Linked DNA regions of Homo sapiens: region 1 is linked to region 2. The links come from fine-mapping of genetic effects on gene expression. Tissue or cell type: nucleus accumbens. Region 2 holds a variant in brackets; the other region holds the start of a gene. All regions are shown on one strand. Distances are between the middles of the regions.

The links. PIP is the estimated chance that this variant, and not a neighbour inherited with it, causes the effect.
Region 1: it holds the start of GPRIN2, and the variant in region 2 is fine-mapped to the expression of GPRIN2 in nucleus accumbens (GTEx, PIP 0.94).

Annotation. Positions count from the first base shown.
Region 1 is chr10:46,555,243-46,557,927 of GRCh38, forward strand. GPRIN2 (G protein regulated inducer of neurite outgrowth 2) reads right to left here and starts at 1,416. Exons shown (of 3, transcript NM_001385282.1): 1 at 1,256-1,416. RefSeq lists enhancers at 747-1,452, 2,158-2,685.
Region 2 is chr10:47,180,322-47,183,006 of GRCh38, forward strand. No RefSeq gene overlaps it. Among named protein-coding and RNA genes, the nearest start is that of GDF10, 120 kb to the right of the region's middle. The variant T/C (reference allele first, on the strand shown) is at 1,149.

The DNA.
Region 1 (2,685 bases), 630 kb before region 2:
GGCCCAAGTCCCCTCTAGTTAAGTGGCAAGCATTTGGATGATGACTTATGTGTCCGGCAAAACCAAAACAGGAAAAGCAAACCTATATGATCAGGCAGGAAAACTGGTTCTATGTTAAAATATGGACCTTACCTCTCAAGGACCAGGCAGGAATGCACACAGCACAAACCCCCATTGCACAGTGGGGATACAGCACCCTCCAGGAGGTGGTTTAATCCACCCCAGAGTGAACGGGGCCTGATAGGAACACTCAGGGCCAACTCTGGGCAAAGCAGCAGGCAGCATTCCTAAAGGGAGGGTTTGGAGGAGACAAAACCTGCCCTTCACAATGAACGTGCCTTAAGGGCTACATGCCCCGGGTCACAAGCTGTGCCAGGAAAGGGTTCTGGGGTAACTGTGGGGTCAGTGGCCCCATGGATGAGGCTCTGCTCACCAGGAAGAGGCCTAGGCGCCCAACAGCCCCTGAGCTTCCTCCCCTGGGGAGGATTTGCCCACAATCCCTGGGGGGCACCTAGGTGGAGAGGGTGCCCCGGCCTAGAAGCAGCCTAGGCGGCCGGTGTGTCCCTATCTGCACGCTCACAAGCACTCATGCCCCAGCCTGGGACACACAGGCCCGTATGCAGTAACAGCGTCTACCCAGCTGCACTCTGCACGCCAAGCACAGGCCGCCCCTGCTGCGGGGCCAAAGGCCTGAAAGCACCGCACCACGCAGCCTCGCCCAGAATAGCTCCCCTCCCGCCCCTCCTGCACAAAGCCCACCCGGACTTAGGGAGAAGGGGGCTCAATACGGGCCCGAAACGAGGCTACAGACCTTCTCAGGAGCAAAGGCAGCGACTGCAGGCAAATGGGGCTGTGGGCCGGGGTAATGATGCGGGACAGGAGAAGCCAAAGGGCAGCAAGGCTGGGGGCGGGGTAGGCGGCGCAGTAGGCTGAGGGAGGGGAAAAGGAAGAAGGGGAGAGGGAGGAGCGATGGCAGCAGGGGTGGAGGCCGAAGGAGACAGGGTCCCGGACAGACTTGTGAAAATGGGAGGATGGGCAGAGGAGACGTAGAAGAGGGGACAGGACAGGACAATGAGAGGCGGAGCGCGGGGAGTGCGATGCGGCCACCGGGGGCTCTGGGCGCTGGGCAGGGGCCAGGATGCCGGGGGTCTGAGCGCAGGCAGCGGGAAGGAGTGGGTTCTGAGGCTCAGCAAGGGGGAGGTGCCGCCCACCACGCCCCCCGCCCCAACGGGAGCGCGCGGAGCCAGCCTCTCACCCTCTCGCCCGCCGGGGCCGCGCAGGCGGGGGAAGCGCTGCTCCTGCGGCCGCCACAGGTGCCAGGTGCCGCGGCCCAAGATGGAGCCAGAGCCGACCTGGCCTGGGCGCGAGACGCCGCCCGCCGCCGTCGGCCCGGCCCGCGGAGCAAGCGCCGGGTACAGGGAGGGGCCAGCGGGGCAGCTGGCACCGGGGCGGCGGGAGGGGCGGCGGGCGGAGACCTCGCTCACCTGGGCCCGTGCCACTCTGGAGCCTGCCACCGCCCCGCCGCGGCCCGGGATCTGCGTCCGCGCGCCCCCACCCCTCCTTCCCGACCCCTCCTCAGGCCGGGTCCCCACTGTCCTCGGTCTTTTCGGCCCCGCCCGCACCACGACCGCCTGTTCTCCAGGCTGCCCAGCGAACCCCCAAGACTCCCACTTCCCCGACGCAACCCCACCGTCCCGGGTGTATAGGCGCAGCTCCCCACGATTCTCCGGCCCCAGACCCAGCCCCTCAAGTCCACCTCCTCGTAGCCCCACCCCCTCGCTCCAGTGCCCCTCGCTCCAGTTCCCCCTCCGCACCACGCCCCGCATTGAGGTCTCCGCGCCGGCGGCTACCCCTTTCCTCTCGCCTTCTCCATCCTAGCTCCGCCTCTCACAATTCTCTGGCTCCAGATCCCGCCCACGAGACCCCGTTTCCTATAGGGCCCTTTCGTCTGGGATACCAGGCCTGGTCTCCACTAGCCTCGGACTTTCCAGCCCCAGGTCCCAAATCCTGGACCCACCGTCCCATCCTCTGAGCTCCACTCTCATGGACCCCAAACCTCACTCCAGTCCTTTGAACTCCATGATCCTGGCCTGGCCTGGCCCCCGGAGCCCTCCATTGCCCCTCAAGAGCCCAGCCTGGTAGACTCCTTCCCTAGGGTTGCATCTCCAGCCCCGCCCCTGAAGACTGGTAATCTACCACCCCTTTCCCTGCCCACGTGCCCCTACCCAGCCCGACTTGAGGCCTTCAGTCTCCCAGCCGCGGACCCCAACAGCGGGCGAGGGCAGTGACCGTGCGGGGATGAGCCACCTCCACTGGAGCCCGCCTTCTTCTCCGCAATTCCCCGCAGCACCACAGCGCCTTCCCGGTCCCGTGACGCCGGGGGCCAGCCCAGGCCCTGGGATCGCCAGGTTCCACACTATGAGGCTGAGGACCTGGGCCTACGGTTCCCTCAATATCCCCCAGTTTCCACAACCGCTGGCCAGCTTCAGGGCGCAGGACAGGCAGCCCCGGCCTCCCGCCACTCGCAATAGATTCCTGCTGTCCACCCAGGGCCACGTGGTATGAGGCACCTGTACTATCTCTGGGCCCCAGTATCACATAATTGGGTCCCAATGTTGGCACTTCTCCGTTGTCCCCTGTGCCGGGACCCCCAACTTGTTGGCCCAGCCCTGTGCTGAGAGGCCT
Region 2 (2,685 bases):
TTATATATATTTATTTATATTCATATATATTTATTTATATATTTATATATTTATTTATTTATATATATTTATATATATTTATGTATATTTACTTATTCATTTATATATTTATGTTTATATATTTTTATATATTTATATATTTATATGTTTATATATTTTTATATATTTATATATAGCTATATATATTTATATATTTATAGATATATATATTTATACATTTTTATATATTTATATTTATATATTTATAGTTATATATTTATATATTTATATATAGTTATATATTTATATCTTTACATATATTTATATATTCATATATTTACATATATTTATATATTTATATATATTTATATATATTTTATATATTTTTATATTTATATGTATATATGTATATATTTATTTATATTTATGTATATTTTTATATTTATATATATTTTTATATATATTTATATATTTATATATTATATATTTATATGTATATATGTACATATTCATATATATTATATATATTTATATATTTATATTTTATATATTTATATGTATATATGTACATATTCATATATATTATATATATTTATATATTTATATTTTATATATTTATATATTTTCTATATATTTATATGTTATATATATTTATATATTTATATATTATATATATTTATATATTTTATATATGTATTTATATCTTTTGTATATATATATCTATAAAAGGAAATGTGTGGGTGCAGATGAGGTCAGACTGAAGGCAGCTTCGAAACAGCCCAAGGAGAAAACTTAAATCTGGCCCTGGTGCACTTTAATTGCTCTGTTCATTCAAAATAAAAATGCACATCAATGTTAGCGCTCTCCCGTCTCCCAGGCTGCCGTCCGAGGGCTGGAGGAGGAAGCCCCACTTCCTCGCAGGCCCTGCTAGAGATTGACTCCAGGAAGGCCGCTCTTCCATCCCCCTGGCATGTTTTGCTTCTGGAGGTCCCGCCAGTGGCTAACAGAACCCCTATTCACACCACCTCCAAGGAGTTACAGAGCATTTCACTATTGCATGCACAGGCTCCCATAAATCAGGTTTACAAAGAGTTATTTTCTTAAAGACAGATTCCTTTAAATTCCATTTCCTTCTCTTTCGCCCATGCCCAACCCCCATATCCTTGTGA[T/C]TGAACCAAAGGCTCTGTGGCCAAGCTTTTCTTGGATCGTGTGAATCAAGATCAATAAATATCCATGCTGCAGCATGACTAGCCCGGCGCCTCACTGTGCTCTGGGATAAGGGCCCGGGTTGTGTGCGGCCGTGTGGCCCTGGCATGGGCCTGCCCTGCTGCTATACACGTCTGTGTTGAGTGCGGGCCCCCGGGTCCCCAGCTCCCAGAGAGGAAAGACCCTTCCTGGGGGAAAACTAACCTAGAAGTCACCCTCCTGGGGGTGTTACCTGTCTCAGGGGTTGGGTATCCAGGGTGGATTTTCAGGCCATGTGATCCACAGTTTGATTTCGAGTGGCTCATGAGCTGCTGCAGGCAGATGAGTTCTTCAACACCAGCACTGTTATTGAAAAAGTCAAGAGAAGACTGTGCTCCCTGTCTCCCCTTCCTCGCTCCCTGTCCTCTCTTTAACCCGCTCCAATGAGGTGTTCACTCTTACTGTCCCACCAAAAGTGCTGCCATCTTGTCAAACCCAAGGGTCCTCATCTGACTCAATGCCTCAGCAACGTTTTTTAGTCAATCGCTCCATCCTTTCCAAGCACTCTCATTGTGTTTCCACAGAACCACGGAAGACCACAGGGGTCTGCCTGTCTTCATCTCCCTGGCTGGCTCCTTCTCTCCTTCCTGACTCGTTAATGTGGGGGACCAAGGGCTCAGCCCTCAGATCCCACCCTTCATGCACGTGTGCCACCTAGGCATTTGGGCCTGTGGCTTCGAACACCATCTATGCTACTGCTATCCCTAAATTTATCATTTCAGCCCCAGCCTTTCCACATAGACCCAGTTCAGGTCACCATTCAAATATCCATTTGGAGTCTCAAACTCAGTATGAAGGTCACTCTAGGTGCAGTCCCCACATTGCAACACACACCTACTCAAAATATACTCCTCTCTATGCACATACTTTGCTTTCTTTTCTTCCCACAAACTGAAGTTGATTTTTTAAAATTTATTTACTTGTTCCTTGTCAGTCTTCTCTGCTAGATCATGAGCTCTACAAGGAAACAGGATTATATTTAATTTTGCCTTTGTAGTCCTAAGAACTATCCACTCCACTCAACCACTTGCTGGGTATTTAGTAACTGAATGAATAAAATAACACTGACTTTTGTAATGTGAATGTGATTCTCTTTCTAGTTCTCTTTAGATTCCCAAAGGCATGTCTGTAACACTGCTCTAACACATGATAATTTCACTGTTTAACAAAGAGAGAACAGTTTCAATCTGAGAAACTTGGCAAAACAGTGTCCTGCTAGAATTTAATAAACTTGCTTTATTTTCATTGTATTTTAAAATATAGTTCCCTTCTACTTATGGCAAGTATTAATAGTTTCCTATTTATACTTGTGGTATAAAGTTTCCTTTTAAATTCTATTTATGTAGGCAGTATGAGTGGATCAATTTAAAGAAAATATTAAGTAAATTATAAATGGCTGGACATTGGCACTGGATGGCTGAGGGTAGGGAAACACTGCATGGATCTTCAAGTGTCTGGGAG